Linked DNA regions of Homo sapiens: region 2 is linked to region 1. A link means that fine-mapping ties the variant in region 1 to the expression of a gene that starts in the linked region. Tissue or cell type: whole blood. Region 1 holds a variant in brackets; the other region holds the start of a gene. Each region is shown on its reference strand, or each on the opposite one.

Region 1 (5,519 bases):
CTAGGATTACAGGTGTGAGCCACTGCGCCTAACCTTAAAATGTATACTTAAGAGAGAAAAATAACTTTATCTATTTGATCCAGTAAAATTACCCTAAGCTTTCAGGTAATTAATCTTTAAACACTTTGCTGATGTCAAAGCCCAAGGTGAAGGTATTTTCTTGAATATTATGGTATTGCCTCTGGTGGTTAAGAGTCGTTTGTTGCAGACAGTAAGAGGCACGGAGACAAATTTAATTTTAGTTTTACTTTTTAGAAAAAGAAAAATAGAAGTATTTGTTCAGGTACAGTATAAATGTAGAATATATATATGTGTATATATTCACACAAACATACACACATGAAATATTTCTTTGTTTAAAGCAATCAATACAACGTAAGACTCCAACACTTTGTGTAAACATGTTCCTGTACTACATGAAAGTTCCTATCTCAGTATTTATAGTATGATGTTGATAAATTGCATGATTTTTTTTTTCTGATTGGTGGTAATAAATGACAGTGATTTATCACTTAACTTTTCAGGTGAGTTCAAACAGTTGCCTAGGCTGATAAGCAACTAAAATATTTAACAGAAAAGCAGACCTTTCTGTTTTCCCAGAAGCATATGTCCAGATATTAGCAATAGGATATGAAGAAGGGGAAAGAAAATTGTAAAAGGGTTGTTCTGAGAGCAGTCCGTACAGTCAGAGCTGCAATAAGAGCTCGTTTTCATGCCCAGCTGTGTGTCTGCTCTGTCAGCAGCGTTAGAGTCTTGATCTTTATCAGGTTACTGCTGCTGATGTCTACATTTTCATTTACCTTGGCTGCCATTTAATAATAATAATAATAATAATAATAATAATAATACGACAAATGATTAAGGCAGAGCTAGGAGTGGACCCGAGAACGCATGTCTCGTTATATGTCTATTACATCTCCTGTGACATCTATGATGGGGCATAGTCTTAATTTTACCAAGCCAGATTCCTATTTTTTGGTTTTCTAAGTTTTTCTAGCTTTTAATAAGTTTTTGGAATTATGAAAACGATGAAAACTCTGAAGTCTCATTTCTAGAAATTGTTCATTTTCAAACTGTGTTCTAAGGAGTGTTAAGGACACAGTTGCCTCTGATGCCATGGAGAACAGGGGTCAGAGAAGGGGAAGTTAACATCTCTCTGGGTTCCTCAGGAAAAGAAGACTTTATCAAAGACTTCTATTTATATATTGGAGTTCGATAAGATTTCTTATAGAAAAAATAGCTTTTGAATAAAGTTTGAAGACCAATGGTCTAAGCCATCATAACTGCGGAAATGTCTTTCTTCAGTATCCCTGCTTGGACAGTGGTTTTGCCCCCATTGTGCACAACACTTTTCCAAAAAGCCTTTCAACATTAATTATGGCTGGAGCTGACTGCTTTCCTCAGACCATCATGCTTCTCCTAATACAATAAATGTTTCTCTTGCTGGGCAGGTGGATGATTGGATTGATGAATGGATGCATAGGGATGGGCAGGAAGGAAGGGAGAGAGGGCATGCATTTATCTCCATGTGTCTGATCTTCTATGTCCAGACATTTTTTTAAAATTATTTGATTATATTTCTTATCACTTAGGGTAGGAACCATATCTTGCCTGCATTTTTTCTAGCTCATATGCGGTTAGAGAAACAGTGAACTGCCTACTCACTCTTTCATGTATTTTGGGGGCCAGATATCCTTCTAGGTGCTAAGGATACAGCAGCAAGCAAAACAGACAAAAATGCCTGTTCTGGTGGAGTTTAGTTGGAGGAAAAAGAGTAAACAGAGAAGTGAATTTTATGGTAGGCCAGTTACTGATCAGTGCTACAGAGAAATACAAAGCAGCAAAGGGGAGGAGGCAGCTATTTTGTATACAGCAATCACTGATACTTGCACAAGGACCTGAAGGAGGTGAAGGAGGGGACCTGGGAGCCATAAGGAGAAAGACTTTGAAGTACGTGCTTGTTTGGCATATTCTAGGACCAGCAAGGAGACCCCCTGGGGCAGGGCAGGAAGCGCCAGAAGCTGATTGCTATGAGGTCTGACTGTTTTTCCTTGTTCACTCTAAGCTGGGAAGACAGTCACGAAGTTTGAGCAGAGCAAAGACGTGATCCGACTTAAAAGAACCACTCTTACTTTAGTGTTAACCATGGACCAGGCATCAGAAACCTTTTTATGTAAAGGTCCAGATAGTAAATATTTTAGGCTTTACAGGCTATATGATCTCTTTCACAACTACTCAACTCTGCTATTTTAGTACAGAAGCAGCCATAGACAATATGGAAGTGAAAGGCTACGGCTGTGTTCC[A/G]ATAAAACTTTATTTTTTATAAAACAGGTGTCAGGCTGGATTTGGTTCCCATGCCACAGTTTGCCAACCACTAAACTAGACCATTTGCCAAGTGGTTTTGAATTGTGGCTATGAGTGCGTAATTATTTTGTCTGTATCACTTGTCAGCCAAAACACACCCCAAACAGTCTACCATCTATTGATAATTTTTATGTGTAATGCCCTATTTACACAATTCATCTGTTACCACCTCAAAGCCGTAGATGTAATTTAATAAGTTGATGCTTTTAAAAGACTTGTCTATTAGAAAGAAAGTTAGCCATTCATAGTTTCTTCATATCAAAGTTCCCATATCACTTTGAGGAATGGAATATCCAGGACAAGGACTGTGTTCCCTGTAATGATTGTTGTGAGTTCTGCTTACTCTTCTCTACTTTTTTCTCTGACTGGGCTAGCCCAGTGCAGTCCAAGAGAAATGTAACATGGGTCTCAAGTGCAAACCATATCAAGAAGTTTAAAACTTCTAGGAGCCACATAAAAAATGCAAAAAGAAACAAGGGAAATTAATTTTAATAATGTTTCGTTTAAACCAAAATATTTCAGTACGTCATCAATATAAAATTACCGAGATATTTTACATTCCATATCTTGTACGAAGTCTGAATTCTGGTGTGTATTTTGCAATGTAGACTAGTCACATGTCAAACCCTCACTCCGTGGCCACATGTGGCTCTTGGCAGAGATCTACAGGATTGGAGAAGGCTCAGAATTTGGCCTTCCCTGATGAATGGCCTTTTGTAAAAACAGTAGCAACACTAATAACCCAGCAATAATCTTTAAGCTAATTTGTGAAACTAATTTACTTTTTCTTTGAAAGAGATTACAGGTATGGACCACTTTACAAGCACTGAGATTATTATTATTGCTGTCTTCCAGTTACTCAACAATGATGAACAGCAAAGTATGATATAAGGAGGACTTCTAATATTCAATAGAGTTTTCTTTTCTTGTCTTTGTTTAAGTTTCTTTTTTTTTTTTTTTTTTTTTTTGAGATGGAGTTTCACTCTGCCACCCAGGCTGGAGTGCAATGGTATGATCTTGGCTCACTGCAACCTCCACCTCCTGGGTTCAAGCAATTTTCCTGCCTCAGCTTCCCAAGGAGCTGGGATTACAGGTGCCCACCATGCCCGGCTAATTTTTTTGTATTTTTAGTAGAGACGGGGTTTCACCATGTTGGCCAAGCTGATCTCAAACTTGTGACCTCAGGTGATCCACCTGCCTCGGCCTCCCAAAGTGCTGGGATTATAGGCGTGAGCTACCGTGCCTGGCCTAAATTTCTCATGTGCTTACTAGGTAACTGGTTACAAATATAAAAATTGCAAAATCAGCTCACTAGTGATTCTCTCACCCTCACCCCCAGCTCAATAACTGGCTCTAGAGTCATTTGGCAAGACTTTAGAACTGCACGGATTGCACCTTCTCCCCCTTCAGGGAGAATCTTCTGTGTGCTCTATCGGTTGTTTTCAATGTGAAACAGGACTCAGAGGTGGTGGCCACTGAAGGCCCAACCTGCAAATAAAGCTTAGTAATATTCATTTTGCACAATTTAAATACATATGTGTACATTTACTAATCTATAACTGATCCCCCCAATACAGAATTATCTGGAATTTGCATAAGAAACTGTTTATATAAACTGCAAAACACCTATATGTTAAATGATTTTTAATAGAATTGAAATTCTAAGAAATTAAATTCTTTTTTCTATTCTTTGAGAAAGGTTCTTGCTCTGTCACCCAGGTTGGAGTGCAGTGGCACGATCATGTCTCACTGCCACCTAGACTTCCTGGGCTCAGGCAATCCTCCCGTCAAGGCTCACAAGTAGCCCAGACTACAGGCACATGCCACCATGCCCAAATAATTTTTTTAAAAATTAATTTTTTCTGTGGAGACAGGGTCTCATAATGTTACCCAGGCTGGTCTGGAACTCCTGGGCTCAAGTGATCCTCCCACCTCAGCCTCCCAAAATGCTGGGACTACTGGCATGAGCCACCATGCCCAGTCTCTACAAAAAAACTTTTTAAAAAAATTAGCCAGGCGTGGTGGCATGTGCCTGTAATCCTAGCTACATGGGAGGCTGAGGTGGGAGGATAGCTTGAGCCTTGGAGGTCGAGGCTGCAGTGAGCCATGATCATACCGCTGTACTCCAGCCTGGGTGACAGAGTGAGAACCTGTCTCCAAAAAAAAAAAAAAAAAAAAAAAAAAAGGAAAAAGAAATTAAAATATAAGACAACATAGAGTTTGAGAGTTGGCAAACAGCAGGGCATAAATAAAATAAATAAAATGCTACAGAGCCATTTGACTAAAATTTTTGAGAAACTTGTAGCACTACAGCAGGGCTACTCCAACGGCCTGTAACAGCAGTAAAAGCAGCAGCACCTTTCCTCACTTTGCCAGACACTGCCGTTTTGGCTTTATCACCCGGAGGGGGTCCCATGCCATTGTGGGAGTGTCCAGTGGTGTTCACGGGGACCCTGACACAGAAAACTGGCCATAGGATCTAATGAAGGAGGCGATGATCAGAGCTGGGAAAATTTGAGTTACCACAGTTTCTCTAACTACATCTGATTCCACCACAGGATCAGTCATGGGTATCTTTGAGGTACACACATACTCAAATCTTGCTCAGTTAATTACTTTCAGGCACAACCAGGCCATTAAAATAGTAATTGAGTTATAAGTTACTATTTTATAAATCCCTTTCTAAGTCTTTGTAGATTTATAGATTCAGTCTTCATTAAATTTGACCATAAGCCAAGTAATTTCAATTTCTTTAAGAAGAGAGTTTGGCAGATGTTAAAATAGAAGGGAAAACCTGATTTTATGGAATTTCTTGAAAGAGAACATTTTGAATCCAGTGAAAAGGGAAAAAAAGTCAGTATTATTTATAGTCACATAGTATAACAGCAACAAGAAGTAATTCCTCTGGCTAGACGTGACCTCCTCTGGCTAGGGCACTTTTAAAAATGCTTTATGTAGAACTTATTTAATTCTTACAATCATATGAGATAGGTATTGCTCTTTTCCTCATTGTGCAGTGAAAGAAACTGATTCCAAAAAGGTTTCATAACTTGCCCAAGGTTATACAGCCAGTAACTGGTAAAGCTGGGATTTGAGCCCAAACAGCCTGACTCTGGAGTTCCTCCCTTTAATCACCACACTAAGTAAATATCCAT
Region 2 (5,000 bases), not on the chromosome of region 1:
AATCCCAGTTACTTGGGAGGCTGCGGCAGGAGAATCGCTTGAACCTGGGAGGCGGAGCTTGCGGTGAGCCGAAATTGTGCCACTGCACTTTAGCCTGGGCGACAGAGCAAGACTCGGCCTCAAAAAAAAAAAGCGGCCGGACTCGGTGGCTCACGCCTGTAATCCCAGCACTTTGGGAGGCTGAGGCGGGAGGATCACAAGGTCAGGAGATCGAGACCATCCTGGCTAACAGTGAAACCCCATCTCTACTAAAAATACAAAAAAGTAGCCGGGCATGGTGGCGGGTGCCTGTAGTCCCAGCTACTCGGGAGGCTGAGGCAGGAGAATGGTGTGAACCCGGGAGGCGGAGCTTGCAGTGAGCCGAGATCGCACCACTGCACTCCAGGCCCGGGCAACAAAGTGAGACTCTGCGTAAGAAAAAAAAAAAAGCAAAAAAAAAGCCGGGTTTTGTGGTATGCACCTGTGGTCCTAGCTACCAGGAGGCTGAGATGGGAGGATCATTTGAGCCCAGGATGTTGAATGTGAGGCTGCAGTGAGCTGTGATTGCATCTCCAGCCTGGGCAACAGAGCGAGAGACCCTGTCTCAAAAAAAAAAAAAAAAGGGAGAAAAGAAAAATCCAAATCTCACAAGGTTACGTGGCTGATTCAAGGTCACAGGGGAAGGTGACTGGACCCCTAGCCTGGATCTCTTTCTCTTCTACCTAATCCTCCTGCCTCTCCCTGCCAGCCTCTCCCCACTCCCCTCCTTGGGGTAGGGTCGGGGTGCAGCCCCAGGAGAAGCCAGCTCCAAAGCACAGGAAAGTCAAATGCCGTTTGATTCCGGCCCCGGGGCCTCTAATTGCTATTCCTGACACAGATTGTAATTAGAAGGCCCCTTTCAAATATTTATACCTCAGACATCTAGTTTTATCCGGCAGGGAGACGACTTGGATTTGATGAGATCTGTCAACAGCTCATCCCCGTGGCCCGGAATTGCCTTGCGGCTGACAGAAAGCAGGACAATTACCCGCTGTGCTCCCTGGCCGCCCCCAGGGACGCAGCCTTGTCGCTGATCTGAAAGGGTGGGGGGAAGCGGGGGTGGCCATGCACTTCAGGAGGGAGGAAGGAGTTCAACAGGTCTGTGTTGGGGGACACAGCCAGTGCAGGGAAGGGGAGGAACAGAAGGGTCTAGACGCCTGCATCCTTCAGGGGCTTTGCCTTGTTGGCTCCAGGCCTCAGTTTTCCCATCTGGATAATGGAGCTCATCGTGGAGAGGAGTTGCAGAACCGATTCCATGAAGAGCATTTTGGGAGGCCGAGGCCGGCAGATCACCTGAGGTCAGGAGTTCCAGACCAGCCTGGCCAATGTGGTGAAACCCCATCTCTACTAAAAATATAAAATTATATAAAAATTAGCTGGGCGTGGTGGCAGTAATCCCAGCTACTCAGGAGGCTGAGGCAGGAGAATTGGTTGGACCTGGGAGGTGGAGGTTTCAGTGAGCTGAGATCGCAACACGGCACTCCAGCCTGGAGGACAGAGCAAGGCTCCGTCTCAAAAAAATAAAAAGAGAGACTCCAGTGCCACCCTAGGCCAGGCCCCACGGCGATGTGCAGGCAGAATCAGCTGTGGAGTGGCTCTGAACAAGTCCCTCCCATCTCTGTGCCTCGGTTTCCCCATCCATAAAATGAGGAAGCCAGGTGATAGCTCGGTCCCTCCTGGAATCCTTCCTAGAGCTGTCTGGGATTTCCTGTTAGAAACCACATCTTTCAAATAAGGAAAACCAAGACTCAGGGAGTGACAGACCCTGCCCTCAGCCCCGCCGGGCTGCCAGGAGGCCCCAGTCATAGCAGTGTTGGTTCTGACTTCTGTCTTGTCCTCCAACTGTGCTCTCCAAGCTATGACCTGTGCCTGACCAGGGGGCTGGCCACAAGAGGAGAGAATCTGGGGTCCCATCCTTCCTGACCACCCCTCTCTCACTCCCCTCATTAGGAGGAACTGGGCAAGCCCCCTTATGGGGAAAGAAAAAAAACGGTTCTGCACTGGAAAATTGGCCAGTGGCTCCCTTTTCCTCTCCCACCCCCCAAACCTCTCAGTGCCCTCACCCTCAGACAACGACAGCTGACAACAGGCAGCCAGTTCAGGCCAGACCCCTCTCACTTCTGCCCCTCTTCCCGCCACCGCTCCCCCCCACCCCGCCCCCAGAAGCCACAAAAGGACAGATGCAGAGGACAGGCGCCAGGCACAGATACCATCTCCCTTCCCCAAGCCAGCTGCCCCCAACCCTCCCCCTGCCCGCAATTAGTCCTCTGGGGCGGGAGCGGGGCACAGAGCAGAGCCCTCTTGGGGGAGGGGAAGCCCGATCCGCACCCACCCTTCCTTTGCCCCCCTCTTCCTTCTGCTGCTCCAATATCAATTTCAGCCAGTGACCTCTCCACCAATTTGCACATCCCCACTCTCCCGGTCCGTTTCACCGCCAGACATCGGTTCCATTTCGACCCTCACTGGCGGTCATTCCCACCCCCTCTGCTGGTCAATTTCACCCCTTTTGGCGGTCAAGTGCAGTCCCCCATTTCCCGGGCAATTTCCCCCTCCCCTCCTTCTCCCTCTCCCCTCCCCTCCCCAGCAGTGTCACTCCCAGCTGCTCCCCACCTCCCGCGCTCCGCGCTCGCTGCGGCCAGTCTCGGGCGTCCCGGTCAGTGTCCAGCTGCCGCGGCCTCGGCCCCGGCGACTCCCGCCCCCAGCCCCCCTTCCCTCCGCGGGCAGCGGCTCCCTCCCTCCCCAGAACAGCTGAAGGTCTCAGTCACCTCCGAGGGGAGCGCAGGGGGAGGGGAGGGGCGGGGGACGCGGCGGAGGGGAGGTGGGGGAGCCTTGACGCTGCTGCCCGGGACGCGGCCCGGGGCTGGTGGGAACAGGGGCGTCCTCCTGCGCGCCCCCCTCCCCAGCGTCCCACCTCCCGGCGGCGGCGGGGAAAGTCTCTCCGAAAGCGTGAAGGGGGATTGGAGGAGGTTTTTATTTCCCTTTGTGCGGGTGGCTGGGGCCGGATCGAGGCGGCGGGGGCCGCGGGACTGGGGGCTCCCCGCTGAGCCGAGAGGAGCGCGACAAAGGATGCGTCCCGCCGGGGTCACAGTCTCCGCGGCCCAACTTTGCGCGCGGCGCCCGCGCCCCTGGGGAGCCCGCCCGCTGCGCTGAGAACCCAGGCGTCCGGGCTGGGAGAGGGGCCGGGAGCGTCCGCAGGTGGCGCTGGCCCGGATCTCCCGACCCCAGGAAGGGATCCCGGAGCTTCCTGGAGGCGGCGGGCGGCCGTGTCGCTCCAGGGAACCGCGCTGCCCGCGGAAACTCCGCGCGCCTCCGCGGATGCCCCTCGCCCTAGCCCCCAGCGCGCGGGGTTCGGGGCCCTGCGAGGTCCCCCCTTCCCCCGCGGTGCTTCCCAAGCTGGGCTAAGGCGGGCTTCTCTTCCTCCCTCCTCTGTCGCCTCCTTTTCCTCCCCCTCGTTCACCTTTTCCTTCCCTCTATCCATCCAGAGCCCCGCCAAAGGGCGCACCTGATCTTTCTCATCCTTCCCTGCTCTTCCCTTCCTCTCCACCTCCTCCTCCTCCTTGGGGAAAGGGGCCCGGAGAAGGGCATGTGGGGGCCCCTCTGACAGTGGCCCGATTGGGGTGACAGGCGCCCAAATGGCCAAGTGGCTACGGGACTACCTGAGCTTTGGGGGTCGGAGGCCCCCTCCGCAGCCGCCCACCCCGGACTACACCGAGAGCGACATCCTGAGGGCCTACCGCGCGCAGAAGAACCTGGACTTCGAGGACCCCTATGAGGACGCGGAGAGCCGCTTGGAGCCGGACCCCGCGGGCCCTGGGGACTCCAAGAACCCCGGAGATGCCAAGTATGGTTCTCCCAAGCACCGGCTCATCAAGGTGGAGGCTGCGGATATGGCCAGAGCCAAGGCCCTTCTGGGCGGCCCCGGGGAGGAGGTGCGTGGCTGGGTGGCCTGGGGAGACTGGGTGGAGGGGAGGCTCAGGATGGGCTCTCTGGATCGTGGAGAGCTTATTTTATGTGTGATCACAGGAGGGGACTGGGGCACCAGACAGACCCTTCCCAGTCCTCCAGACCTCCACCTGCTTGGGGAAGTCTGTTCTTTTTATGTATTTATTTATTTTGAGACAGTCTCCCCCTGTCACCCAGGCTGGAGTGCAGTGGTGGGATCTCGGCTCATTGCAACCTCCACCTCCTGGGGTTCAAGCGATTCTCCTGCCTCAGCCTCTCCAGTAGCTGAGATTACAGGTGTGTGCCACCACACCCGGCTAATTTTTGTATTTTCAGTAGAGACTGGTTTCACCATGTTAGCCAGGCTGGACTCAAACTCCTGACCTCAGGTGATCCTCCCGCCTCTGCCTCCCGAAGTGCTGGGATTACAGGTGTGAGTCACTGCGCCCGGTGGATATCTGTCCCTTTTCAATGCATAATGCTGGTTGTCCTTCTGCCTCTCTGACCACCCTGCTTGGTCTCCGGGTCCTCCTCCTCCTCCATGGTCATCCCCTGCAGTCCCCCAGCCCCCTCCCCTCAGCACCCCTTCCTCTTGGAACCTGGTGGGATCTTCCTAAAATAGATCTGAGTGAGTTGCTCCCCTGCTGGGCACCTAAATATCCTCCCGGTGATGCTGCCCTTCCTACCACTATGTTCCCGTTTTACAGAAGCGAAACTGAGGCTCGCAGAACGGTAGTGACTTGGCTAAGGTCTCACGGGGTTCTAGCTTACTAGGATTTGAACCCAGGCCACCGGGTGCAGTAGCTCATGCCTGTAATTCCAGCACTTTGGGAGGTCGAGGTGGGAGGATTGCTTGAGCCCAGGAGTTCGAGACCAGCCCGGGCTAACAGAGTGAGACCTTGTCTCTACAAAAAAAAAATCAAAACATTAGCTAGTTGTGGTGGTGCACACCATAGTCCCAGCTACTCAGGAGGCTGAGGCAGGAGGATCACTTGAGCCTAGAAGGTCAAAGCTGCAGTGAGTCATGATTGCGCCACTGC

Evidence for each region. PIP is the estimated chance that this variant, and not a neighbour inherited with it, causes the effect. A credible set is the group of variants that fine-mapping cannot tell apart.
Region 2: it holds the start of SHD, and the variant in region 1 is the best candidate, but not a certain one, in a credible set for the expression of SHD in whole blood (TOPMed, PIP 0.74).

What each region holds. Positions count from the first base shown.
Region 1 is chr6:22,076,993-22,082,511 of GRCh38, forward strand. All of the region lies in intron 8 of CASC15 (cancer susceptibility 15), which reads left to right. Among named protein-coding and RNA genes, the nearest start is that of NBAT1, 67 kb to the right of the region's middle. The variant A/G (reference allele first, on the strand shown) is at 2,305.
Region 2 is chr19:4,276,414-4,281,413 of GRCh38, forward strand. It overlaps SHD (Src homology 2 domain containing transforming protein D), which reads left to right and starts at 2,853. Exons shown (of 6, transcript NM_020209.4): 1 at 2,853-3,947. The coding sequence starts at 3,651.